Homo sapiens: one gene and its partners. The protein of the gene in region 2 interacts with the protein of the main gene of each other region in a biochemical or structural test. Each region holds a gene or a part of one and is shown on either strand. Other genes may lie near its edges.

Region 1 (7,024 bases), on a different chromosome or scaffold from region 2:
TTTCCCACTGTTTCTCTCTTTTGGGTGTTTCCATTTTGCTCTAGCTGGAACATTCTCCTGGCCAGATCTAGTGGGGAAAAAGTTCAGGTCTTTGTTTTTTTCACCTACCCTGATTGGTTAACTATAATGCTTCAAGTTCCTTTTCCTTCATCTTTTTCCAAATGACCATGCAATGCTGGACTCATTTTATCCAGTTTCTTTTGCCCCTTGGTCTCTCTGCCTGTCTGAATTGCTGCTGAATATCTACAGCTCCTTATTCTTTTATCCTCTGCAGCCCTATTTCCTGATATTGGTAGAGGCACAGTCCATAATGAGAAACTCTAGAAGGGAGTCTATTTTGCCCAACATCTCACAACTTAACTAGCAGCAGGGTAAAAATGAAGCCTCATTTCTTGGCTATTACTTTCTTTTCTACACCAGTCTTCATTCAAATATGATAACAGCTTAATCTGAGATAAAACTGAAAGGTTCCAAGGAACTGTATCATATCCTATGAATCTTTTTCTTCTTTCTCTTTCTTGACTGGCTACACTGACCTGCTTAAAAATAAGTGGCCATGGTCTCTTTTGCATTCAGGTATACAACAAACAAGCTGATGAGTATCTGAAAATATATACATGTGTACATATAGGCTTAACCACATAGATATTGATAAACACTGCTTATGCCACCTGCATTGGTATTTTTCATGTAGAAAAATAAAATGTTTTTTTCTAGGCTCACATTCTACTTGACTGTGGTGAAGACAATGTCTGTAAACCCAAGCTGGAAGTTTCTGTAGATAGGTAAGTTTTGCTTGAAATAATAATGTAGTAAGAAATTTAAATGGAAGGGCACATTTTTCTATTCAAAGGACTAACATATTTTAACGAGAATTAGTTATCCTGGAGGGTAATGCCTGATTTTCTATAACACTAAAACTATCAATATTGAGCTTCTAAAGAAAATATCCACTGTGTTTTCACTAGTTGCCTAGGTTGAAAGAGTTATTACCATTCAACTTTGGGTAATATCACAAAATAATATTGTATCATTTTAAAGATACACTTCATCATAAACATTCTTTGAACTCAAGGAATATCCTTACCATTTTGTAAGGCATATGAATTATAAAGAATATTGTGAGAATTATGACACGTGATTAATTTAGCTTTTAGAAAAATATTGGGGAATTACAAAGTACATGTAATTCACTTCAGTAATAGATATGAATGATAGTGATATATTAGTGGCATCAATGTTTATTTTTATTGAGAGAAGCATTCGATTTGCACCCAGTGTGCTATTTTCTGTTTTCTATCAAGCTGTGAAGTAGTCTTAAAATACCTTGAGACACTGTTGAACATGTCAGTGCTGTGTATTTATCTCTTCTTTCTTTGAACAGTCATACTTTCCCCATGTAGTCTTTTTTTCTCAGTCTGGATTTGTATTGTTAACTTGTAGTGATCAAAAGAAGATCTATATTGGGGATGACAACCCTCTGACATTGATTGTTAAGGCTCAGAATCAAGGAGAAGGTGCCTACGAAGCTGAGCTCATCGTTTCCATTCCACTGCAGGCTGATTTCATCGGGGTTGTCCGAAACAATGAAGTAAGCAGGCTGCCTCTTTAAAAATTGAAATGCACTCACGGATCTTATTAACATTAATGAGCTGTTCCCCTATTTAGTGAAGCACAAGCTTAGCTATTCTACCTAAGGCTAAATTGATAGACAATGGAGTGCCTATCTTACATAATTCCTTTTAAGCCTAATACTTTGCATAATGCATTGATATGACATTTTTAGAATTGCAAGCTAAGTGCCTGGAAACAAGGTTAGATAGATAAAGTGTCTAAGCCTGTCCATCAAATTATTTGTCAGAGGCTGTATGGTTTTGTATGGTAGTCCTCTAGGGATCTTTCAGAAACACTTCTGCATTTCCATGTGGCAATTGTACCCAATTCTGGCTTTTTCCTTACCTCCTGGTTTGCTCAACTAGATTTATTTGCTTAGGACAAGAAACTGAAATATCCAACTGCGTGATACTTTATTTCCTTTCATATCCATTTTTTTTTTTTTTTTTGGTCTATCAAAGGCCTTAGCAAGACTTTCCTGTGCATTTAAGACAGAAAACCAAACTCGCCAGGTGGTATGTGACCTTGGAAACCCAATGAAGGCTGGAACTCAAGTAAGACAATTTAATTAAACGGATTTTTCTCCCTGGCAAATAGAAAAGCATATTGTTGTCTGGGCTCATAGTAATTTTTAAAAATAAACACTTCAAAACAATGTCCTTAAATTGGTTTCGATATAATAGTTAAATGATTAGCAGAGTTTTGCTTAGTTTTAACTAAGATACGAAAACAATTGGTTGTGCTCCTACACGGTTTGCAATCAGCTGCTCTTTATGCCTCCTTCACTTTAGTGAATGGATGAGAACGTGGTTTAAACTAAGGACTGAAATAATAATTTTTGCTATTTTACACTGATGCCTTAATGGATCCTGAAAAGCTACTCTGGCAACTACCAAGACTGTCAATCCTAGGTGAGCTAGATTCCATCACAGGCCCCACACAGAGGATCAAAGTGAAGGTCAGTTAAATCAGGCTCCCCTTCAGATGGTGGAGCAGGGTGCCCAGGAGCTTGAAAAGAAGCAGCCAATGGCTTGCTTTCCGAATCCTCTAAAAAGTAAACAAAATATACCTTGTAGAATTTCTAGTAGCAAGGACAAAATGGCAGCATATGCTGTGTGACTTTTTCAATAGAATTTATTTAATGACTTATTGATACTGGTACTTTGAAGATCTGTGGTAATACAGGTCTAAATATTCCATATTTCTTTAGTATGTTTTCTATTACAAGTCATTAGTATTTCTAGATGTATGGTATCTTAGGGATGAGAACTTGAACAAATTACCCTAAGTTCAGTTTTTCACGTGTATTCAATGTTTTATTAACAATGAGCATGCCTTTTATTTTCTCATATTCTCATTCTCTCTAACTTTCTGGTTATTATATAGTTTCTGCTTATTACAAGTAGCCAGCTCCAGGTTTTGTGGAGTGGGAGGCAGAACCCAGGAAGTACTGTTTTTATATGTCATTTGTGTGATCCCCAAGAAGCCTTCTTTTTTGTACCTGGTGGTTCAATTGTTTTATTTAAAATCTACCAATTTTCTGCCTGCAGGAATTAGGATATTTGGTGTTGGGAGTGTTATGAGAGGTGTGTGGAGAAATTCTGGTTGTGGCCCTACTCATGCCTTCTTTAGCCATGTTCCCTTACTCTAGTAAACCATCCATTTCTTCTTTCCTGGCCTATGAACACAGCACATACTTTGGTGGTTAGCTTCGTGTTATCAAATTATTGTACCCAGTTGCTAGACTTTCACTGGATCAACAAACATTTACTTTTGCACTTTTTAGAAAGATGGTTAGTATTATAAGGAGGTATAATTATGATTAATAATTGTTGTTAAATAGGCTCTCTTATGGATTGGTCCAGGTATATTAAGTAAAATAGGTTTGATAGAAAATAAGATTTAGTTATCTTTGTTCAGTTTTATTGTAAGCTCAGAAAAACCCCATTTTAGAACATTATTTTTTATTTAGACATTGGATTTGAAATTTTGCTAATTAGACATTGACTAGCATTACTATCTTTTCCTCTCTCCTTTAGCTCTTAGCTGGTCTTCGTTTCAGTGTGCACCAGCAGTCAGAGATGGATACTTCTGTGAAATTTGACTTACAAATCCAAAGGTATGAAAACAACTTATATTCACTTATAACTATCAAATAAATATTATTTGTTGTAAATATACTATGTAATATACTTTAAATATAAAGTAGCAGATTAAATTTTATTGCTTGACTATAGCATTTTAAAATCAATATTTACATTATAAGAATAATTTTATTGTCAGATTTGAGTTTGTAAAACAAAATTTAAAATCCAGAAAGAAAATGTTCATCTTCTTGGAATTAAGTGTTAATGAAAATAACTATTTTGAGGTATAAGCTTTACACTTGTTTCGTTTGTTAATTTTTAGTTTCACTGGGTTTGCCTCTGTATGTTCTTGGTTGTTATGCATAATTCATTTTTAAGTTTTTTTTTTTCTTTTTCAGCTCAAATCTATTTGACAAAGTAAGCCCAGTTGTATCTCACAAAGTTGATCTTGCTGTTTTAGCTGCAGTTGAGATAAGAGGGTCAGTATGAATACTTAGTTGAGTATCTCATTCTCATGATTGCTTTTTAAAGGTAACTGTCAGGCCTTAGCCTTTTCTGGACAATAGACCCTGCATGTTTAGTGGTGGTTTTACTAGGGCATTAGCTTCTGTAGAAATAAAATCCTAGGTATGTTCCAAACCCCCAATACTGGGTGATCCTCAAAAGGAACAAGACATGGCAACAACATGCACAAAATAATTTTGTTGAACTTTTACACAAATTGTCAATTCACCTGTTACGTGTACATTTCATAAGAGCAGTTTTTGTGCATGTGTGTGTTCATTAGTTTTCTTTTAAAGTATTTTTTAAAATTAAATCTAATTTTATTTATTTGAGTAATGAATATGGGGTACTTTTGAAAATGAACTGACTATATCATTTTGATATTCATGGTAGGTTTTCTTTGGTCATTGTTTAGAGTCTCGAGTCCTGATCATGTCTTTCTTCCGATTCCAAACTGGGAGCACAAGGAGAACCCTGAGACTGAAGAAGATGTTGGGCCAGTTGTTCAGCACATCTATGAGGTTTGCAGTTGTTAGATTTTACTCAAACCTCGTGAGCAAGCCAACGAAGAGAGGAACAACTAAGCTACTTTAAAAAAAAAATTCTATGTAATTTTTATGTAAACTCTACATTGGTTAAGTATGTGTCAGAGATTTCTTTGAATATTTTCCCTATACATAAATTCATTTTTATTTGACAAATAGACTTGTTTAAATAAAGCAGTTTATATAATTTGTTGTTTAAAATAAATTAGTTCTACTTGAATAAAGAAATGTCATTGGTACTTTCTCATGGGCATTTTGTAGTTCTGGCTAAAAATTGAAAATACCTATGGCAAATAATCAAAACTATTTCTATAGGAAGAAATTTTCTTTGTCATCCTTCATTAATAACTTTTAAATATTTTGCCTTTTGTTTATACATACATACATATATATATATATATATATATATATATATATTTTTTTTTTTTTTTTTTTTTTTTTTTGAGGTGAAGTCTTGCTCTGTCGCCCAGGCTGGAGTGCAGTGGCGCGATCTCAGCTCACTGCAAACTCCACCTCCCGGGTTCAAGCGATTCTCCTGCCTCAGCTTGCTGAGTAGCTGGGATTACACGTGTGCACCACCATGCCCGGCTAATTTTTGTATTTTTAGTAGGGACAGGGTTTCACCGACAGGTTTCACCACGTTGGCCAGGCTGGACATGAACTCCTGACCTCAAGAGATCCGCCCGCCTCGGCCTCCCAAAGTGCTGGGATTACAGGCATGAGCCACTGTGCCCAACCTTGTTTATATTTTTATCCTGACACATATTACTCTGTGTTAGAGACAAATGTTGAGTTTGATCATTTTTGCATAAAAATGGTCACATTGTAATTAGAGGTTAACTGTGGAAATTGCTGTTATTTAAAACCTATTGCTAACATGATTTCTAAAGTTGATGTAGGGGAAGGATTATGGAACAGATTTTTGCCCAAGGTGTAGATACATTTTCTTTTTTCTCCTTAGCTGAGAAACAATGGTCCAAGTTCATTCAGCAAGGCAATGCTCCATCTTCAGTGGCCTTACAAATATAATAATAACACTCTGTTGTATATCCTTCATTATGATATTGATGGACCAATGAACTGCACTTCAGATATGGAGATCAACCCTTTGAGAATTAAGGTAATATGCTTAATAGCAGCTCTTCATTACAATGATATTTCATTGCCTTCTTTCTAAACCTGTAAAAGAAATTCATAAAATAAAACAACTATTTTAATATAAAACCCACTCTGCAAAAAATGGTTTAGTTCATAAGCAGTACACTTAGGATAAGTTCATTTGTATAATGGGTAAGAATTGATTCTGTGATGTCTAGTGAACCACATCTTCATAGAGTGCTTACTGAGCCTCATGAGATGTGTCCTTCAGTGACTCAGTTTGACCTTGGCTCCATCACGTTGTTGTTTCTTCAGGGCATAATATCACATCAAGGGTGTTTTGTTGTTAAAATTTCTACCTTTGGGATAAGCTATACCATTTTACTCATGATTATCTTGACTTTTGGATATAGTCATCTCCATCATAGATTTGCACTAGAAACTATTACACAATATGATCTAAGGAAAGGTGAAGAAACAAAATAAAAGATATACCCATGATTGACATCACAAATGTACTGTGGAATTTCAGGCCATTTCTGTATGTTTCATCAGTTTCCACTCTAGCTAAGCAAGGGCTGAAAATAATGGTTAGGGAGAGCTAACTTTTTTGGTACATATTAAAGACTCTAATCTTTATTTTCTGTCCTTACTGCTCACTATATACTGAGTGGTAAATATTCTGTCATACTAAATTTTCATTCACTATTTTTTAATCATATCTAAGAGTTTATATCAAAATGCTGATGTAAAATGTTTTTCATTATCATTTACCACCATTTTATTAATGTGATTGCATTAGATCTCATCTTTGCAAACAACTGAAAAGAATGACACGGTTGCCGGGCAAGGTGAGCGGGACCATCTCATCACTAAGCGGGATCTTGCCCTCAGTGAAGGAGATATTCACACTTTGGTAAGTGCCATTTCAAATATGTGCACCATAGACATTTAAAAATATGTGACTATAGAACTGACGCCAAAGAACATTTCAAAAATAACAACAGCTGTGCTTGAACAACTACATTTATTTTTATACCATGCATTCCTCTCACTTTCCTTTTTCCTAGTCAGATTAATGCCATATTTTCTTCAAATGAGCTATTTTTGTAGATGGCTAATAAAACTAGTTTATGTCCCAACTTTGATTCTCCTACTCTAGTTCTTTAACTGTCC
Region 2 (7,417 bases):
TATAGCTGCTCTCTCCGTCACAGAGTGACACAGTGACTTTCTGAAGCCCAGGCTCCAAGGACACAAGGCCATTACCTTCAGGATGGGAGGTTTCCTCCAGGCTCCTACCTTATCTGTTGGCTGCTCTGGCTCTTGTTCACAGGGCCGCACCATGCAGAGCCGAGTCTGTTTCAGCATCTCACATTGACGGTTCCTATTGGTGACCCGGGTGGAGAACCCCATACCACAGCTCTTGGAGCATGCTGTCCACTCTGTGGTCTGTTCAATGCAGTTGACACTTGAGTCAGAGACTTCTACTCCTAGGGTGGCTTCTGGCCTGTAAGCTATGGGATGTATAAATAAAGACAGCCATATTAGGTACAATGTGAGGATTGGAAAGTGGTCCTTTTCAGCCATTATTAGAAACTGGGTCTCATTCGACTCTGTACCTACTAAACACCCATGCTCCCAGGACACAGAACTGAATTTATTTATCTATTTATTTATTTCTGGCATGGCTGATAATGTCTGCCCTCAGAAATAGTATACAATTCCGGATACTGCTAATATAAGTAATCTGGCTAATTAATGGCTTCTAAAATAATCCTCTATTGTCTCTTGAGATTTTTTATTTAAACTATTTCATTGATAAGAGAAAACAAAAATAAGAATAAAAAAAGGTCCTGAAGTGCCATCTGAGCCTTACTACAGCATCTAGAAAGATGACACTTTTCAGTGACACCTGTGCAGGGATGAGTAGCCTTCTTTAAGGAGGTTAATCATGAGACGGCCTAGGTAGTGTACAGAATCCAGAAAAGAAAGAGAATTTAAAATTTTGTCTTTGTAGTGCTAATGAGGGTCAAGTGGGATGGATTAAAATACAAGTAGTAGTCATCCAATAAGACAAAAATAAGACAAAAGAGTGAATTTGGGAGGTCCTCTTCAGGAGAAATTGCAGCAACCTTCTATAACTTAGTTTGAGTTTATAAATATGTTTGATCTAATGTCTACAAATGTGTTTGATCTCAGTGGGCAACCTGAAACCCACAACTGAATGACCAGAAACTGAGGCCAGTTTCTCTTTTCAAATCCAAGAGATTGCAAATTCTTCATGTTTGTATTTACCCTCTACTATGACCAGCCCTAGGTATATTGAGTTTCTCACCTGCAAGGGTAAGGCCTCCCAGTGAATCCTCCTCATCTGGGCCACAGATCCACTTTTCACAGCACTCTCCAGGCACCTCAACTTTTCTTGGAGCTGGGCAGTTAGGCTCAGGCAGTAGCACATCCAGCTGACAGCGGGGCACACAGCCAATCTGCCCATCTCTGCAGGTGCACTGGAATTTGCAGCTTGGCTGAAATTTCTCTCCACTGCGGTAGATGACCCCATCGAACACACAGTTATCTCCCTCTACCGCTAGAATATTGGGGAAGCAAAGTGAAAAGCAAAGAGGAAGAGGAAAAACAAGAACACAATACAGTGAAGAAGCTATGTAAGATTTGGAGGGCATGTTCCAAAACCCAAGTCCTTTTCTAGTTCAGGCGATCTGGTTTCTCATGTATCTACTGTAGAGTGATGTCCTCATGGAGGCCTCTCAGAGCAAGAAGAAACCTTCAAGATCATCTAGTCTTGCCACTCATTTTATGGATGAGGAAAGAGGTGTGCAACTGTGAAGTGATGTCCCCAAGGTCCCCTGGCCATTTTTCCCAATGTTCAGTCATTTTGCGAGAACCTCCTTAGAGTTTCCTACTCCAGCAGCTTAGACTTAAAAAGAGAAAAAGTGTACTTTATGTTTTCCAACAGGTTAGCTGATCAAATTGGGAAGGGCATTAAGATTCCTTGACACTCAAGCATAATAAAATCATCAGTAGCTTAGAGAAAAAAGTAAAAGCCCTCCTGTCCAGAAAGGAAGGGACAATCTTCAACTACAATGTTGTATCATGTGAAAAATTGATCCCCGACTGATTACGTTTTAGAAGCCTGGATTGGCTAGTTGCCTGCATTTTATTTTACTTGCAGCCAGAAAAGGGTTACATAGTTATCCCAGGAGACTAGCAGCTGCTTTGGTTCAAATGGGACAATTACAGGTGTGAAAACAAACCTGCTGGGTTTTCCCCAACTGCAGTTTGGGAAACTGTGAGCGTGTGAGTAAACCCGAGCTTCCATCAGCCCCAAGTGGCCCCCTAGAAGTGTCCGAAGGAAATGACTTCACTGGCCCTTAACTCTGCGTGGCTCCCCCTTTGCTTAGATTCTTGTCTAGGAAGCCAAGTGAGGAATGCCTTTCACCCCCAGGGCAGGTTTCCTTTCTGGCTCTGGCGCTCCCCAAAGCCCCAAGTGCTCCCCAAACCATGCCTGACACACAGTAAGTGCTCTATACATGTCATTTATTGCATTATTATTATTTGCTTATCGCCCTCTGGGAAGGGGAATACAAAAGAGAAGGGAGGAAGCAGCTTCACTTAGCTGCAGGAGAAGAGGTCAAACAGCAGAGGGAGCAGGATTACCCGTGCAGATGCCAGTCTGGTTGCTGGGGTCCGCGCTGCGATCACAGTAGAGGCCACTGCTCTCGTCGCATGGCTCCAGATCTGAGCAGCTCTCGCCACGCTGGCGGGCACACACCAGACAGCATGAGCAGCCGTCCAGCACCGCGCGCACCCCGGGGGCGCAGGTCGGCGGCGTCGCAGGGCACCGGCCCGGGCACTGGGGAGGGCAGCGCTGAGTCGCAGCGACCTGAAGGCAGGCGAGACAAGGAGAAACCACTCAGCTGGGACAGAAGACGCAGTGAGCCCGGTGACCAAATGGGGGCCACCAAGGCGGGCAAAGTAACTTGGGGGCATCTTAAGGGTGTGCCACTTACCTGTCCCAGGAGATGGAGAAGCAGGAAGGTCAGGCAAAGGCACTGCTTTCGGAGACAAAAGCTCGTGCTCTGCACACTCTGCATGCTCAGGCTTTCCCCTCTCGCTTTTACCAAACGAGACTTTCTTCGCTGTAGATTGGCACTGCTCGCCTTCCCCCTGGTCCGGTGCTTGCCGATCACGCCCAGCACAGGTTTTATAGCGCGCTCCTGGGACGCGCACAAGCCGGTTGGCTGCAGTGCAGGGAGGAGGGGGGAGATCGGCTGGGTGGGGAAGTGGAACGAACCCCGGGGTTGCCATGGCAATTGGCTGTGGGTGCTGCTCTCCTTAGGGCGCGGCGCCGGGGCCTGCGTGTGCCTGTGTGTGGCGACTGGCTTTTCCCAGAGGGTGGGGAGGGGCTGGGTGGAGTTCCGAGGCCAGGACCCAGGGCTCGCTCGAGCGCGTGGGAAGGAAACGCCCGTTTCCTCCTGGAAGTTGCTTCGCCTTCTCCCAGGACGAAGACACCACCACTCCCCACCATCCTCCTCCACCCTGACCGTTCCAACCAGGGCTGCAAGCGTGGGGTCCCCTTACGGGATGCCTGCAGTTTGGGGCCATCTGCAGGGGATTGGCAGAAGGCCCAGGGGTTTAGTCATGAGGGAAGCACATGCAAGTTTGTCACCGTTTAGGGCACTCATTGAATGTGTTGAGAGGGAGGGGAGAGAAGCAAGGGAGGAAAGGAGAGAAAGAGGAGAAAGAGAAAAGTGTGTGTGTGTTGGGGGGAGGGGAGTGGCAGGGGGAAGGGAATCTAGAAAAAAAATCGATATGTCAGGAGGTGGGGAATGCTATTGGCCAAATGGCAAAATTCTTTTGACTCTAATCCTTCTAGCTTCACTCAGTCTTAAACCCCAAGGTCCACAGGTTTGTTAGAAATAAAAGTAAAACACACACACACACACACACACACACACACACACACACACATAAAGAAAACATCATAAAATAAAACAAAGAAATCTTGGCAGAAGAAAGCCTTGAAGCACCTGCTGTAGCAGACCAAATGTGAGACGGCACACCTGAGAGTCCAGAAACCTTTGACAGTTTTCTAAGTGGGTTCAGTTCAACCACCATCACCACCATCAAAACCTCCAGCCAGGGAAGAAATGAGGAAGAAACTGGCTTAACTTGGCTGACCCTTCAGCAAATCAAATCCTTCTCTCACCGGGCATCCGCTTTCAAGAAATGATTGCTGGGGCATGCTTGTCATCTCTCATGGGAAAAAGGGAGCAGTTTTACTGCTCCAAAGGTGACATTGTTTGAAGGATTTAGAACAGTTTCCCCCCACACTTCAACACTGGTGCTGCCCCTAGGAGAACTATGCCCAGCTCTTTTGAGGATAGTTGCTTTGGAAAAAAACAAAAAACACTTTTTAAGGAAAATTATACAGGCCTGTGATGTAATTCTAGAGTTTAAAAAGAAACAAATGGCCTCTACCTCATCTGTCCCCAGCATGAAGGAAATCAAAGGCAGCTTGCGGAAGGGGCCAGGTCTGCCTCTGCAACACCCGCAGATGATGAGGTCACCTCAAGCCCCTTCTAGATAATTCTCTCGGCAGCCTGAAACCACTATGACACACTTCCAAGCCTCTAATAGTTCTGCTTTCTTTGAGGTAAATGAGACTGAGTAGTACTCAAACTTAACTAGAGATGAAACAGTTCATTTGCACTCTTGAGTAGGACATTTACCTACTCTTCAAATTGATAGGCTTTGGAGGGTGGAGGGTGGGAGCAGGGAGAAGATCGGGAAAAATAACTAATGGGTACCAGGCTTAATACCTGGGCGATGAAATAATCTGCACAACAAATGTCCATGACACACATTTACCTGTGTAAACAAACCTGCACATTTACCCCTGAACTTGAAATAAAAGTTTAAGAAAAAGATAAAACAAAAAACAAAAAAACTGATAGGTTTTGTAAGCCATTTGGCCTAATGATGCCTCCATCTGGCTGCAGATCGAATCAACCAGCATGTATTTTGTTAAAAATACAGATTCCTGAGCCCCACTCTTGACCCACTCAGTAGGATTCTCTGGTGGTGGCTCTTGGTAGACAGCATTTTAATGTACTTTGAAATGGAGCAACTAGAAGCACTGCTAATGGGGAGGCAAAGAGCATCGGCCAAGTGTTCCAAGCATGAATAGACTCAGATAGAACAAGGAGAAATTGGCAACATGGAGATTGGGCTAGCTCTTCTTGGAAAGAGTGGGGTGGGAGTGGTGACAGGGAAAATGTAACTTTAAGACAAGGATTAACATGTCAAGAAGTCACTGCAAGTGTAAAATTGCTATTCAGTTTTGATTGCAAGAGATGGAAACCAAACTTGAACTAGTTTTTGCGAAAAGAGGACTTTACTGGAAGGATGCTGTGATGTTTCACATAGTGACAGCACAGGAATGGTACAGGGAGTCCTCAGAGGCAATTGGGATCTAGAGAGAGGAGGGCCAACAGGATTACTTCCACATAAGGGAAAAATGATCCTTCCAATCTTCTTACTTTATGACCTTATCACCACAGAAGGAATGTCCCTGTCTCTTAGGCCCAACTTTAAAAGTTCCAGGAATTAAATTGGATGGGTTCACCCTGGACTAATCAATGGGGACAAGGAAGGTGAAGTATGGGGATTAGTTAGAACCTCATGGTTGGAATGGAGAGAAAGAGCAGTTCTCTTGGGAAGAAAGGACTGTTCCTTAAAAAGAAAGCAAGCTTGGTGAGCAAAACAATACACATCCACTCCATCATCTGCTATAAATGCTCTAGGATGAGGATCTTCATCTTAAAACAATTGTAAATTGAAAGTGATACCATCTGATGATAATCATGTCATGTCATGCTTCACTGCCTCCAGGACATAGTCTCTGAAATCCTTCATGCCGGGATAGATGTTATCCGCAGTGCAGGCCTGGGATGCCGAGCTTATCTCTTTTATCTCATAACTCACTGGATAATCATTATAGTCACACCATTTAATGATGGGGATATTGTTGGAGAAATGTGTCCTTGGGTGATTTCATTGTTGTGTGAACATCATAGAGTGTAGTTACACAGATGCGGATGGTGTAGCCTACTACACACCTAGGCTGTATGATATAGTCTATTACTCCTAGGCTACAAACGTACAAACAGTACAGAATATACTGCACTGAATACTGTAGGCAACTGTAATACAATGGTAAGTATTTGTGATTTAAACATATCTAAACTTAGAAAAGGTGCAGTAAAAATATGGTATAAAAGATAAAAAATTGTCCACCTGTGTAGGGCACTTACCGTGAATGGAGCTTGCAGTGGGTGTCAGTGAGTCAGTGGTGGGTGAATGTTAAGGCCTTGGACATAACTGCACACTACTATAGCCTTTATAAACACTACACTTAGGCTAAGCTAAATTTATTCAAAAATTTCCTTTTTCAATGATAAATTAACTTTAGCTTACTGTAACTTTTTTACTGTATAAACTTTTAATTTTTTTAACTTTTCGACCCTTTTGTAATAACACCTACCTTAAAACACAGATACATTGTACAGATGTACAAAAATATTTTCTTTATATCCTTATTCTACAGGCTTTTTTTTTTTTTTTTTTTTTTTGAGATGGAGTCCCTCTCTGTCACCAGGCTGGAGTACAGTGGTGCAATCTTGGCTCACTGCAACCTCTGCCTCCCTGGTTCAAGCAATTCTCCTGCCTCAGCCTCCCAAGTAGCTGGGACTATAGGCACACACAACCACGCCCAGCTAATTTTTTGTATTTTTAGTAGAGACAGTGTTTCACCATATTGGCCAGGGTGGTCTCAATCTCTTCACCTCGTGATCCACCTGCCTCGGCCTCCCAAAGTGCTGGGATTACAGGCATGAGCCACTGTGCCTGGCCTCTATAAGCTTTTTTCTAGTTTTAATATTTTTATTTTTTTTTTTTTTGTGAAAAATAACACACAAACATACATATTAGCCTAGGTCTACACAAGGTCAGGATCATCAGTGTCACTGTCTTCCACTCCACATCCTGTCCCACTGGAAGGTTGTCAGGGGTAATAACACACATGGAGCTGTCATCTCCTCAGATAACAATGTCTTCTTCTGAAATACTTTCTGAAGGATCTGCCTGAGACTGTTTTATAGTTAACTTTTTTTTATGAGTAGAAGTATGCTCTAAAATAATGATGAAAAGTATAGTAAATACATAAACCAGTGACATAGTCACTTATTATCATCATCAAACATGGACTATACATAATTATATGTGCTATACTTTTATATGCCTGAAAGTGCAGTAAGTTTGCTTACACTAGCATTACCATAGACACATGAGTGTGCTACAATGTCATGACAGCTACTATGTCACTAGGCTATAGGAATTTTTCAGCTCCATTACAGTCTTATGGGACCACCATTGTACATGCCGTCCGTAGGTGACCAAAATATTGTTATGTAAGATGTGACTGTACTTGTCTGTTTTGGTGACTGCCTCCCTGTCCTGCCTGGGAGTCCTTGAGGACACAGAGCATGTCGTATTTACAGTAACATCCCCAACATCCACCTCAGGGTCA
Region 3 (7,024 bases), on a different chromosome or scaffold from region 2:
TTGTGATTCTATTGTGTTTTTTCTAAAACCAATTGATCCTCTTAAGACAGCTTTCCTTTCAGAATAACACAACAGGATGTGTTGATCTTTTCTTTTTTCTTTTTTTTTTTTTTTTTTTTTTTGAGACGGAGTCTCACTCTGTCACCCAGGCTGGAGTGCAGTGGCGCAATCTCGGCTCACTGCAAGCTCTGCCTCCCGGGTTCACGCCATTCTCCTGCCTCAGCCTCCCGAGTAGCTGGGACTACAGGCACCCGCCACCACGCCCGGCTAATTTTTTGTATTTTTAGTAGAGACGGGGTTTCACCGTGTTAGCCAGGATGGTCTCGATCTCCTGACCTTGTGATCCACCCGCCTTGGCCTCCCAAAGTGCTGGGATTACAGGCGTGAGCCACCGCGCCCGGCCGATCTTTTCTTTCAACTTTTAGATATCTGTTCTCTTGAAGGCCAGGGCCCACCGCAGAACAGAATCAGGGCTGAGGCTAGACCAAAGGTACACTGAATTCAGTGCCTCCCTAAGTGCTGCTGAACACTAGAACCCAAAGATGTTCACAGACAAAGAATCCCAAGGTCAAACGTACTAGGGAGACATGGCGCCCATCCCCTACACTCTACCATGGAGAGTATGATGTAAAGGAACACACAGATTCTGCAGAGCAGGTTCCATTTTGTTTAACCCATTGCTTCTCAAACTTTTTTGAACAATGGAATCTTTTCAGTATTGGCAATATTCATATATAGCTAACATTTATTGAGTGTTTATCCCCATTTAATTCCCACCTACACTTTTAATCTATTTTGGTAGACTGACATTTATAATTTTTTTTATTTTTTATTTTATTTTATTTTTTTGAGATGGGGTCTCGCTGTATCACCCAGGCTGGAGTGCAGTGGTGCGATCTCGGGTCACTGCAAACTCCACCTCCCGGGTTCATGCCATTCTCCTGCCTCAGCCTCCCGAGTAGCTGGGACTACAGGCGCCCGCCACAACGCCTGGTTAATTTTTTGTATTTTTAGTAGAGATGGGGTTTCACCGTGTTAGCCAGGATGGTCTTGATCTCCTGACCTCGTGATCCGCCTGCCTCGGCCTCCCAAAGTGCTGGGATTACAGGCGTGAGCCACCGCGCGTGGCCGATGTTTATAATTTTTTTTGGCCAGTAGCAATTTTATTAATGATAATAAAATAACTCAAAGATATTATCAAATCTAATCTTGTTCACCTTCATAAGTGCTCAAAGCAAGACAAAAACTCATCAAAAGAAGAAAAATTAGAACAATTAATATTTTTAATTGAAGGATGGCTGAGACACTACGTAATGATGTTGGCACATCATATAGTAAAAAGTTAATCAAAACATATTAAAAATAATGAGAGGAGTGCACGTCCTTGTTGGCCATATTTCTCTCTTCAGATTTTTATGAAACATTTATGACGTAAAAATCTTTTTCTCATGCCAAAAATGATTAAAACTTGTTTTTTAAAAAGAATGCTTAGATATCATGTCTTTCATGGCCATCTCTAAGTCCTCTCTGAATTTCTAAAATTTCGAATGCCAATACATGAAGGAAATAATTGTGTGTTACTTTATAGAATGTAACAAAGTTTGCCAGAGCATAGAAACCACATATAAAGGATGGTTTCCACTACAAAAAGAGTTCAATGTCGGGACAGGGAAGTATATTTCATTCAAAAACAAACAAACAAAAAATCCAAATGCACTTTTTTTGTCCTTTCCTAGCAGAAGAACCAGGTAGTCATATAATTAATTATAACTCTCATTTCCTTTCAAATGAACTTTGGATATTCAAAATACGTGTGTGTGTGCGTGTGTGCGTGATCTATCCATGGTAAGTTTTATGATGCTAGCATTCTTTAAAACTCAGTTTTATCTTTTGGAGATAAATCTGGCTTTTTTCCCCCTAAGGTTTATTTGTATGTCATTTTTCTTTTTTTCTGAAAAATTTAAAACTTGACATTAAAAAAAGTTTTAACAACCAATAATGTGTAAATTATCTTAGGTTATTAGCTGAAACACTGCAAATTATCCTCAAATGGCATGTCAAAGGAAAGATGGATTTGCGGAAATATTTCTTGACCTGCTTCCCCATTTCCCGCCCCTGCTCGTCCTGTGCCTCACCGCTCGATGTGGTCTGCACAGAGGTGTGCCTCTCACACTTCCACTCTCCTCGGCCGTTGCCTGTGCAGATGCACTGGAGCAGGTTTCCTCGATTATCCTTCTTGCTCCAGGTGTCTCCAATTCTATAGGATGTCCTTGTGTCCTGATCGTTGCATCTATCTGTGTCACAAAGGAAGCACATACATACATCAGGTCGAGAGTCGCAAGTGGTCAATTCAAACTTAAAAAAGGAATGCTATCTATGCCTGGTAATCTATTTTTGGTAATATGTTCATATTCAGCTCTGGTGCTGCAAGGTATTACACTTCTGAAAGATGAAATTACATTTGTTACAGTGGAAAGGCAGCTGAATGGTTTAGTCTAGTTTCATCTCTCTGTCAAATAACATTTTCATTTATCTATTTATTTATTGTTTTCACACTGTTCCTTTGACTAACTTCATTCTCTGGCATTATATTTCATCTTTTTCCTTCTCAGGCTCTTCCAGGATTTTTCTTAGTCATCACTGTTTATGGCCTGCCTTTCAATAGGGACCTTGCTTTAGAAAACTAAAAACAGGCTAAGCGCGGTGGCTCACGCCTGTAATCCTAGTACTTTAGGAGGGTGGATCACCTGCAGTCAGGAGTTCAAGACCAGCCTGGGCAACATGGTGAAACCCCCGTCTCTACTAAAAATACCAAAAAAAATTAGCCGGCTGTGGTGGCGGGCGCCTGTAATCCAAGCTACTCGGGAAGCTGAGGCAAGAGAATCGCTTGAACCCGGGAGGTGGAGGTTGCAATGAGCTGAGATCACACCATTGCACTCCAGCCTGGGCGACAGGGTGAGACTGTCTCAAAAACAAAACAAAACAAAACAAAACAAAAAAAACAAGCAAACAAAAAAAAGCTTATAACAATGGGGAGGCAAGCAGGTATCAAAGGGTCTTCACCAATGGCTACAAAGAAGCTATAAGAAGGTGGTAGTATCTCTTTCTTCATTTGTTATGTAAAAAATGTAGAGGATGCACAATTTCTTTGACTAAAATATTATTTTCCCTTCCCCTATACCCAAACATCTACAGTATTTAAAAATCACTAGCAAAATAGCCCCAAATTATTCAGTGTTAGCCCTCCACTGGAAGAGTGGGATCAACATAAAATGATAATTTGTAACTAAATGACCATTAGTCTATGCGTGCATTTATCTGGTAAATAGATTATTTAAATTATAATCCAAATTTGCTCTGTGCCACGATGTGAGTATAGAGGATCTGATGTCTTTGTGAATTGGATATTGTTGCAACTCCTGGGTTAGAGAAAAAAAATTAATAGTTGATGTAGGTTCAAACAAATACACACCCACATCCATCTACCACAAGAATAGAAGTTTGCATGAAGGTATAATTACTGATTAGAGCTTTTTCCCAAATCCCCAGCGAAAAGTATTATCATCCCCTGAACCTCCATAGCACTACTTTCAGTATTTCTGTTGAAATCTTTAATACTGTGTTTTGCAGATGATAAATATGTATAAGACTTTCTCATCTCCCTGACCCCCTAAGTACTCTTTGAAGGCTGGGCTAATGTTCATTTCATATCTGCACCCCTATAATACCTTGAACAAAGTAAGTCCTTATAAAATTTTCTGGAATAAATGACTTCTCTTTGAGAAACTTTTCCCAACTTGCTATTTAAAGAGTTCTAAATAACAGATAAGGTTTGAATCAGACATCTAATTTGTCTTAAGCTAAAATATTGCCACAAAGATCTTGGAAGTCTGATGATCACAGTAACATTTTAAATGCAAAATATCTAATAAACCAGCAAGTTTCTGGGAAAGCTTTGGTCAAAATGGTTACCACTTTTCATGAGAGACCTATTTTTGTTAGCAAAGAATTTGAATTTGGATGATGGCTATGTTAAAGGTAGTTAAATGGGTTCAGCTAGATAAATAAAACAGGTTCAAATTATTTGGATTTGATTTTAAACTTATTTACAACACCAGTAGTTAATGGCTGTTTTACTTCAACAAACTCTCTAGCTGTTATTAGTTTACAATATCAAAAAAGGAGCCTTCAAACCCAAAGGCAACAATTAAGACCCCAAGACAATCTTAGAAGGAGCAGTAAAGACACCAGAGGCCAGCTTCTTTACAGCACTAATCAAATGCGTTAGGTCAGAGACACTATCCCTAACTCCAGAGTAGATAAATCATTTTAATTTATGGGATAAATTCTTTTTAATTTTATCAATTTAGCCTGTGAATGTGCCCTATTTAAATTTCAAACATAGAAGGAAACCTAAACCTTTTGTTCAACTCTATGTCAGTGGCAGTGAGCTGAGATTGAACCTTATCAAAGTGATATGTTTTTCTATTTATGTAGTCTTCTCTGAAGATGCGGAATAAGTTGGTTATGAAAGTTTTCTTGACTTCCAGAAGTTACCAAAGCATGCTGATATACTGGATGTGTTCTGAGTAACATAGTATTACCCTTCTCTCTAGGAATCCAGAAAACAATACCTGGCTTAATCTTTAACATAAAGATGTAAAACATACTTCTAGAAGTGCAAGTGATGCGTCCGCTGCCTTCTCCCAGGCAAGTACAATCTACCATCATCCAGCCTTGGTAGGGCTTCTCCCACGTTTCTCCGACCACATAGGAAGTCCCAGCAGCATGATCAAAACACTTCTCAGCTGTAGGGAAATTTGGAAGAAAAACAGGAAAAAAAGGTTATTTTGAATTGTGCAAGCTCCCTGTAATTTAAAGTGTAGTGTGTAAGCAAAAATTCAGCCACATTTTTTTTAAGTGGCACTCTGTTCAGAAAGAATGACACACCCAGCATCTAAGCACACAGTAAGTAGCCAAGGCAAAAGAAAGCTCAAGCTGAGTTGGCAGGCAGAAATTCCATTCTCCTAATAAGTACATGGACTACATATTTTCAGCGAGCCCCAAACTTCCCAGCAGCATTTCCAGTAGCAAGGATCTATGTATGTATCTAGTCTGTGGGAGACTACATATGCAAAATTCCAATCTTAATTATAAATGACCAATTATGAATTTTGAGTGGCCTAAATACAATGACAAAGAAAGCTATTTTTAAATATTGGAAAGCAAAACAATACAAAACAAGACAAAAACCTCTAAATTAGAAGACAAGTAAACAGAGTAAAATTTATAGCCAGAAACTTTCAGGCTTGTACTTACAAAATTCAACTGAGGATTGAGATCCAAAGAAGCTCAACAACTTTTAATTTGAAAAGAAATGAGCAGAGTGTGACAAGCACACACTATTTCATGTTTCGGTCCAGGACATTCCATATAGAAATGTGTCCAAAGTGTCATTTTTTTTTCTTTTAAATAAATTATATCTTGACGAAGGAGGAATCTGAGATCAGCTATTAGGTAAAAGAAATGACTCCATTCTAAATCTTTCAATTCTACCTTATGCTTTTGAAGCAAAGTTAAGACTTCTATGTGTAGTCAGTACTTTTTGATCTAACTCCTGTAAGAAGACTATGGATTATATAATAATTCATTATTTCAAACAAAATTCCCATTTCTTTATTGGTTTTCACTGGAATTCAGGTCTATGACCTATGTAGATGTGATTCTGGTCCAACCCCACATTAGAACTAAGCATCCCAGCTCTTGCTCAGCCCTAAGACTCACACACCTATGGGCTTGCAGGTCCATTCTCCTTTTCCATTACCAAGACACACACACTCTAACATGTAACCACCAGTCTCATGTGGTCTCCTCCAGGTGTCACCAATCTTGTAGGACTGACCCCCTTCATGGCAGCGGTCTGTTGAAGATACAACGAAAATGTTAGGAGAGGGCAGAACAGATTTTTTTTTTTGGTCTCATATTCCACCCATGGTAGGTACTTAGGTTGGCTAAAGTAGAGACACAGACAACAGCTTTCCCATCAGAGACAGGGGAAACGTTAACAGGTCTGGTCACTTGGAGTCAATTCAGTTAAGTGTCTTGCTTAGAACACAATGGAAAACCACAGAGAAATCTGGATGGCAAGGAAGAGGTCATGAATCCTGCTTTCCCAGAGAGATCACAGGAAATTGGGTCCTAAGCAGAAAAGAAAGGCTGGGAGGCTTGGTCTTCACTCATACACAGCAGGCTAAGACTGAGACTAATTCAGTGAAAAGGCCACATCAGGCACAGCACTCCAGCTTTTGGGAGCATGGAGAGCCTGTATTTTACCCTAGGATAGAAATGTCATTTTGGTGGAAAGCAAACAGACATATGCATATAAAGTGTGGAAATCCTGGTAGTTTTCTAAGTTGTTAAGCCCAATGGCACATTCAAATGCTGAACTAGATTGTAAACACTATGGACCCTTGCCTCTTGCGATTTGCCTGTGAACTTGGATAAACCCTAACATGAAATATGGGGAAAGTTGATTGGGCCTATTCACACGGGACTTGTTCTTTTGAATAGAAGTCTTTAAGACGACTTATATTTAAAGAATGGATTAAAAAACTTAAATACTATCTTAATAGAATCTATTGGTAACCCAGTGAATCATACTGGAAAGAGTGCCTTAGCTAAACTAGAGTTGAGAATCAGCCCGGTTCCCAAAGTTCCTTAGCAAACTCTATTGGGTTAATAATTTTGTATTATCCCTAGGAATAGTGACATCTGCTTCCTGGGTATAACCTACTGGTCACCAAGAAACCAGACTGTTTCTGTGAGGTGCAAGAGGTCTCTGCATTGCAAACATGAAGACCAGACAACACATGGCTGGTTCACTCTTCATGAACACCTTCCCAGTCACTGCAGAAAAGTCTCATGATTTGTCTAGCTTGAAGATATCCAGGTGATTTAAAATGGGCAACTCCCCTAAGCATGTCTTACTGAAATGGAACCCAAGAGGTCTCTTGGTTCTACTATG
Region 4 (7,359 bases), on a different chromosome or scaffold from region 2:
TGAAGCAGGAGAATCGCTTCAACTCGGGAGGCGGAGGTTGCAGTGAGTCGAGATCATGCCATTGCACTCCAGCCTGGGCGACAAGAGCGAAACTCCGTCTCAAAAATAAAATAAAATAATAATAATAATAATATAGCTGCCATGGTAGACACTATCCTATGTTCTCTCTCTTAATCCTCAAGACAACCTAAGTAGGTTTTTGTTCCCTTCATTTTATAAATGAGAAAACCACCAAACCATCTCATGGCTTTTTCTGATGCAAACTGATTTCTAGTCTCACAAGGCCCGTGGAGCCCTCCAGGACCTGAAGATGAGTCAGCCGCGTGCCCCTACTCCTGCCCTACACACCTAACAGGGGTGGCAAATGCAGCCCTGAGTTGGGGGGCACTCAGCAGGGCCAGGAGCGGGGCGTGAGCCAGAGCTGTGGGTGCTGCAGGAGAGGCCCCAGCCCTGACCCCCATGGCACAGAGTCTCATCTTCATGCATTCAGTGCCCTGGCCCCCACCTCCTGACTGGGAAACTTCCAGGAGTGGCGGCACAGACCACACGTTTTCAAGCCAAGTCCTCCCTGGCCTTTGTTCTCCCTCCCAACTTTCTTTTAATCAGTCGGAAACGCTGCCCGGCTGCAGCCAGAGGCCAAGAAAGCCTTGGAGAAAACACAATCGTCTTTTCCTAACACCTCCTCCTCTCCACTCCCTCCCACCCAGCTCTCAGTAAAGCCCAACGGGACGGACAGACACAGGACAGACAGGCGGCTCCTCTCGGCCGTTTGGCAAGAAAGATCAGCGCCCTTCTCCATTTAAGCGGCCGTCGCCAAAGGAGTTTCTGCAGATCAGCTAACAGGCTCACCATCTGCGGCCCCACAGCTCTCTGAGAGCAGGGGCGGTGCCACTTGTGGCCTTACATACAGGGCTTCGGGGGCCTCACAGCTGCAGATAGGGGCCAGGCAGTCTTCAAAAGCCCCTTCCCAAACTGTACCAAATTAAACCTGTTGAAACTCAAAGAGACTTCTCCCCAAAAGAAACAAAAGGCCCACAGGACATCCAGCTGCTTTTATCGAAGTGTGCAATTAGGAGGCTTTTTTAAACCCTTCCAATTACAAACTTCTCTGTGGCTCAGCAGTGAGCCACACTGGGCCCGCAAGTCCTGGGGTGTTCATTCAGTCACACACACATAGGGAGAAATTGTTCGCAAACCGCAGACAGAAAAGAACAGTGAGAGGGAACGCAGAGACTCCGGGGCCAGGGAGAGTTTTACCACGCCTTCTCTCAGGCCCTCAGCTTCCTCATCGACACAATCGGGGCCTCTGAGGCTCCTTCCTTTTCTAACAGGAGTCTCGGATGTCCCACCCACCCATCACCCAGGGCCCCTCGGGGTTTTCCCTCCAGCTGGCAGCCACCCGGCCTGCTGCTTGCTGGAATGCCCTCTTCCCGCGCTCCCCTTACATCAAGCTCCATCTCTTCTAAAGAGCCTCCAGGGAGCCCCCAGGGGCTGCGAAGGCTCCTGGTGCCAACACTGAGCTCTGCGCCTCCCCACACCATCTCCAACCCCACGAGGTGCCCAGGCCGTGCCCAGCACCGCCTGAACAATCAGAGCTCCACAGGGCTCTGCTGCAGCCAGCCAGTCAAGAAAGCTCTGTAGAGCTCAGCTCCCAGCCTCCCCTCCCCCTCCAGCCCCCTTCAGCCCCCTTCCTGGAATCCCCCAGTGAGCATTAGTTGGGACAAGCGACCTTTTGACTAACAAAGGCGGTCACCAGAGGTTAAAAGGAACTCAACTAAACCAGGGATTAAGACTCGGATTCTGAGGGTGGTCTAGGGCACTCCCCTGGACCTGGGCCACTGGAGAAACAAAGACGCCAGGAGTGCCGGGCCTGGCTAGTGGCTCTGAGAAGCCACGGGTCAGCAGAGAGGTCACAGGTCATAGCTCTGCCGCCCAGCAGCTGCTCTGATCAGAGGACCTCGTGGCAGTCCCCCCAGGGACCAGGCCTTGAGGGTTAGAGGGGAGAAAAGCGCGGGCTGGGTGGGCACTGTCCCGGAGCTGTCAGTCCCAGAGTTGGGGCCTAAGGTCTGGGCCATCGATCAGATCTGCTCTTGGAAAACTCCATCCCCCTTGCCGTTGGTGGAAGTGACCAGTCCCCAGTCCCCGCTGAGCACCGAGCCCGGCAGAACCACTGCCTTGGGCCCTCTGTCCCGGGAGGGAGGCAGGGAGGAGGTGGCCAGGTCCGCATCCCCTCCATCCTCCCAGCTACGCCCCAAAAACCTCCAGGCTGCTCCCTGGCTTTCTCATTTCTTCCTCTCCAGCCCCTATCCCAGGACCGCTAGTGTCTCCTGGGGAAAAGACTGCTTCCCACCCTCCAGGCTCAAGTTTCACATCCGCAAGCTGGGTACAACAGCTCCTACCTGGGGGTGGAGGCGGGAAGCGGTGAGGAAAGATAGCCGAGGGCGCTTCCAGCGTCAAGTGCAAGGCGCCCTGGGCTCGGTAACCCCCAGCCAGCGTCCCCCAGCCCAGCTAGCGCCCCTGAACCCCCAGGGCCCGGGATGCGGCCCCCGGAGCCGGCTGGATTTGCTAGGACTGGGGTAGGACGGTGTGTTTGAGGGGTGGGGGAATCCGGTTTTGAAACAAGTCCCCAGGCCGGGGAGGAGATGAGGACCGGAGCTGGCCGTGGGGGAGGGGGGCGTCGCCGAGGCCTCGGCGCTGACAGTCCGGGGGCGCCGCGCAGGGCAACGCACGGACTCCGAGTCCCCGTGGTTCCGAAACTCGCAGGGAGCGCGAGGCCGAGGGGGTCGGGACCCTAAGCTGGGGCGGCGGACCCGGGACGCCCCTACCTCCGGCCGCCAGCAGCGCAAGGCCGCCGAGCAGCAGCAGCGGAAGCGGGACCCGGCGCGACGGCGCGGCGCGCTCCATGGGCGGCGGGCGACGGGCGGTGGGCGGCGGCGGACAAAGGCGCGGGCGCGGTCCTGGGGCAGCGGCGCGGGCTCCACGCTCCGGCCGAGCCTCGGCAGCCAACGCTGGGCCAGGGCCGCGCCGTTCAATTATCCCGCCCGGGAGGAGGGCGCGGCGGAGGCGGGGCCGCGGGTCTCCTGGTCCTCCCTCCCCGGCGCCCCCTGCCGGGACCCTCCCTCCCCGGACCCCGGCTGCGAGGGGCGCGCGCCCACGGCTGGGGGCGAGGGCCTGGATCCCAGACTTCCCCGGAGGGGGCACAGAGGGGGCGCCTTCGGGCCGGATGCCCCCAGTCCTATCCCCCAACACTCCGTGAAACCCGATCCCCTCCTCCCCCCACCCCCTCTCGAGGGGAGGGCTCGGGATCAAAGGTTATCCCCGCCCGACTCCGCGCGGAGGAGCGGGGACCCGGGCCTGCAGTCGGAGGCCCGGCTGCTGGGGGGCACTGGGGCAGGCCTTACCGCCAACCCCGCACCCTCGGCCGGGAGGCTGCAGGTCGGTGGCTAACCCCAGGCGTGTCCCGGGATGGGACCCGACTCTGCCCTCAGAGACAGGGACAGTCGGGCCAGGCCAACAAACAACCAAAATCCCAACGTGTGCTGGGCTCACCCGGGACACCAGGGCCGGAGGGAGAGACCCGGGAAGTCACCGAGGCTGCAGGGGAGGCAGCTTTGGCGCTGGGCCTGCGGGAGCCTCTTGTATAGGAATTCATAGCTACCGGGGTTACTGAGGATGAGTTAGGCTTTGGAACCACAAGTAGATTTATTTTCCAAAGAAGAAGAATAAAATGGTGCAGGTGAAGATGCGGAGGAACTGGATGAGACGCATAGGAACGCCACTGGGCAGCTCAAAGCGGTGTTCCTGTGAGTTCACCATGGACCCCTTGAGCCACCGACGCCCCGCCCAGCCTTACACTCAGCAGAAACGCATACAACATGTGCTCCAAAAGACAGAAAGACATGTAGCCGCACATTCATAATTCCTCCAATTGGGAAGCCTAGCGTCATCAAGGCAGATGAATATCGTGGAGTATTCGGGCTTAGGAGCACGACAAACGGAACAGGAGTGAATGATCCGCAACTCACATAACGGGTAAATCTCACAGACGTAAGTCAGAGTAATAGAGTCAGCCACAAAGGAACACTCGCTGCATGATTCCATTTACATAAAAGGCAAGAACAGGCCGGTGGCGGTGGCTCACACCTGTAATCCCAGCACTTTGGGAGGATGAAGTGGGCGGATTGCCTGAGGTCAGGAGTTCGAAACCAGCCTGGCCAACATGGTGAAACCCTGTCTCTACTAAAAATAAAAATAAAAATAAATTAGCCAGGCATGGTGGTGCACACCTGTAGTCCCAGCTACTCGGGAGGCTGAGGCAGGAGAATCGCCTGAACCCGGGAGACGGAGGTTGCAGTGAGCCGAGATCTCACCACTGCACTCCAGCCTGGGCGGCGGAGTGAGACTCCGTCTCAAAAAAAAAAAAAAAAAAAAAAAAAGGCAAGAACAGTTCAGAGGTCAGGAGAGTGGTGATCCTGGAGTGGGAGCGTGCTGGGCTTTCGGGGGCTGGTTAGGTTCAGCTTTCTTACTCTGGGTATTGGTTACAAGGTTGGGCTCAGTTTGTGAGAATTTATTGAGCTGTTCATTTATGGTACGTGCCCTTTTCTGAATACATGTTGTTTCTTTCTGTTTTTTTGAGATGGTGTTTTGCTTTTGTTGCCCAGGCTGGAGTGCAGTGGCGCAATCTCAGCCCACTGCAACCTCCACCTCCCGGGTTCAAGCGATTCTCCTGCCTCAGCCTCCTGAGTAGCTGGGACTACAGGCATGCACCACCACGCCTGGCAAATTTTGTATTTTTAGTAGAGACGGGGTTTCTCCGTGTTGGTCAGGCTGGTCTTGAACTCCCGACATCAGGTGATCCACCCGCCTTGTCCTCCCAAAGTGCTGAGATTACAGGCGTGAGTCACCGTGCCCGGTCACATGTTAAATTTTAAAATGAAAAACAAAAGGACAAGAACTCATCTCCCCACAGGGTGTCTTATAAGTTTGAAGTTTGCAGAGAGCCCAGGAAAGCTTACCAAGGGGACCAGCATGCTCACGCCTCTGAGGTTAAGGAGGCCCCTCAGGAAGAGGTGACATGCGACTGGCCAGTGAAAGGTGAGCAGAGGTGGGAAGGGTTTCCTTGGTGGTGCCAGCTTTCCTGATGTCTCTGCAAAAGTTTGGAGGCACCAGAGATCCTGGTCCGTTTTGACTTTGGATGGGGTGGGGTGCGGAAACAGCACATCAGCAGATGGCCCGAGGGAGGCATTTCTGAGTTGGAACAGGTTGGGAACTCATTACTACTTTGGTATTAACTTAATTCGTTTAAGCCATCGGAGAATGGGGTGCCCTGGAAGGAGTCTAGATGACTAAGGGAAGGTGGTGGAGGGCGAAGGGGGAACCAGGGGACCTGGGGGATTCAGAAAGAAGACGTAGAAACAGGCAGAGGGGTAGAAGGAAACCAGGAGAAGGCAATATCCAAGAAGGAATCAAAAAGTGATTCTGGGCAGGGCGTGGTGGCTCATGCCTGTAATCCCAACACTATGGGAGGCCGAGGTGGGTGGATCACTTGAGGTCAGGGGTTCGAGACCAACCTGGCCAATATGATGAAACCCCATCTCCACTAAAAATACAAAAATTAGCTGGGCATCGTGGTGCATGCCTGTAGTCCCAGCTACTTGGGAGACTGAGGCAGGAGAGTTGCTTGAACCCTGAAGGCGGAGGTTGCAGTGAGCCAAGATTGTACCACTGCACTCCAGCCTGGGTGATAGCAAAAAAAAAGTGATTCTGGCTGGGACTGCCCAGTGTGGCCCAGTGCTCAGTGAAGCCAGGACTGAGAAGTCCCAATGGGGATGGAGCAGGTGGCCGCTGGCGATGTGACCGGGGCCCTTTCTGGGGATGGGGAGGGAGTGGCTGTGTTGTGGGTGGCTGAGAAGGGGGTGGGGATGAGGAAACAGGGACAGTAGGAGGAGGTGACTCCTACATTCAGCTAGGCACTGACACTGCCCTAGGCAGGCAGAGGGACTGCTGGGAGGAGGAGGGCTGAGCCAAGCCTGCAACAGCTGGGGAGGGAGGCCAGAGCCAGGAGAGAGGACATGGAAACCTGGCCTCTCCCAGCCTTTCCTGAAGCTTCAAGAGCTTACTCCTGTTCTGAGGCACAGCCCCCACCATTTTTTTTTTTTTTTTTTTTTTTTGAGGCAAGTCTCACACTGTCACCCAGGCTGGAGTGCAATGCCACGATCTTGGCTCACTGCAACCTCTGTCTGCCGGGTTCACGCAATTGTCCTGCCTCAGGCTCGGGGGTAGCTGGGATTACAGGCACACACCATCAAACCCAGCTAATTTTTTGTATTTTTAGTAGAGACGGGGTTTCACTGTGTTGGTCAAACTGGTCTCGAACTCCTGACCTTGTGATCCGCCTGCCTCAGCCTCCCAAAGTGCTAGGATTACAGGCGTGAGCCGTGGCGCCCAGCCAAGGCGCCCCCTTTTTAGGCACTCACTCTAGTCCTCATCCCAGGCCTGTCCTCCATGGCCTCTCCACATCCTCTTGTCCCTGTGGCTGGTGACTTGGAAAGCCAGGCACTGGGTGTCAGGGAAGTAGGCACCACCATGGACCCCTATCCCCCAGGACAAGCTAGAGGTCCTGACAGCCTGGGACAGGGTCTGAGGCCAGACCACCTGGGTTCCAATCCAAGCTCGCTACTCTCTGGCTCTGTGGCATTGAGCATTTGACTTCTTGGTACCTTGTTTCCTCATCTGTCACGTGGGGCAAGGATTAGGACTTTGCACTTTGCACGGTCGTGAGAATTGAAGGAGATGCTGACTCTCATCACATAAGCCCCACAGAGAAAACTCTGTAATGTAATCACTGTCAGCTGCTGTGCTGGTGGTGACAGTGATGTGCCTTCAGGACCACACAGGGGAGCACCAGTCCTGACCCCCTCCTCATTCACTGTCTGGCTCTGGGCAAGTCCCTTTCTGGGCCTCAGTTTCCCTATCTGCAAAATGCAGGAGATGGACCAGGATGCTTCTAAGCATGCTTCAGACCCCAAAACCCAGGCTGACTCTCGGCCCCCTTCTCTAGTTCTCAGCACATCCAGCTTCCAGAGGCCCACTGGAAGATCATAGGCCTGAGATTCTTGCAGTCCAGGTGAGCCACACCCAGGTGCTGGGAGAAGAACCCATCATGGGCACGGGCATTCCTGCACATTCTTGCTGAGTATGCCACAAATGCAAAGCCCTGGTCACTCTGTACCCGTGTCTCAGGGTCGTGTTTGCAAAAAGCAACCTCAAAGGAGGAGGTACCATCTCCCTCTGGACAAGTTTACCGGAAAATCGGTAAATTCCCCAAACTCAGTGTTCTCCTGTGTAATGCAGCCCATT

What was found.
Region 1: the proteins of CCN3 (region 2) and ITGAV form a complex in vitro, tested with the Homo sapiens proteins (one study listed by BioGRID).
Region 3: the proteins of CCN3 (region 2) and FN1 form a complex in vitro, tested with the Homo sapiens proteins (one study listed by BioGRID).
Region 4: the proteins of CCN3 (region 2) and FBLN1 form a complex in vitro, tested with the Homo sapiens proteins (one study listed by BioGRID).

The regions. Positions count from the first base shown.
Region 1 is NC_000002.12:186,663,051-186,670,074, forward strand, and holds part of ITGAV (integrin alpha-V isoform 1 preproprotein), read left to right. Parts: intron 1-717; coding exon 718-785; intron 786-1,443; coding exon 1,444-1,591; intron 1,592-2,075; coding exon 2,076-2,168; intron 2,169-3,653; coding exon 3,654-3,733; intron 3,734-4,099; coding exon 4,100-4,180; intron 4,181-4,620; coding exon 4,621-4,726; intron 4,727-5,711; coding exon 5,712-5,870; intron 5,871-6,650; coding exon 6,651-6,764; intron 6,765-7,024.
Region 2 is NC_000008.11:119,412,037-119,419,453, reverse strand, and holds the start of CCN3 (CCN family member 3 precursor), read right to left. Parts: upstream 3,009-7,417; 5' UTR 2,922-3,008; coding exon 2,838-2,921; intron 2,711-2,837; coding exon 2,485-2,710; intron 1,397-2,484; coding exon 1,145-1,396; intron 324-1,144; coding exon 109-323; intron 1-108. UniProt on the Homo sapiens protein: Immediate-early protein playing a role in various cellular processes including proliferation, adhesion, migration, differentiation and survival. Acts by binding to integrins or membrane receptors such as NOTCH1.
Region 3 is NC_000002.12:215,426,045-215,433,068, forward strand, and holds part of FN1 (fibronectin isoform 1 precursor), read right to left. Parts: intron 5,921-7,024; coding exon 5,789-5,920; intron 4,809-5,788; coding exon 4,671-4,808; intron 2,295-4,670; coding exon 2,136-2,294; intron 1-2,135. UniProt on the Homo sapiens protein: Fibronectins bind cell surfaces and various compounds including collagen, fibrin, heparin, DNA, and actin. Fibronectins are involved in cell adhesion, cell motility, opsonization, wound healing, and maintenance of cell shape.
Region 4 is NC_000022.11:45,498,531-45,505,889, reverse strand, and holds the start of FBLN1 (fibulin-1 isoform D precursor), read right to left. Parts: upstream 3,008-7,359; 5' UTR 2,905-3,007; coding exon 2,826-2,904; intron 1-2,825. UniProt on the Homo sapiens protein: Incorporated into fibronectin-containing matrix fibers. May play a role in cell adhesion and migration along protein fibers within the extracellular matrix (ECM).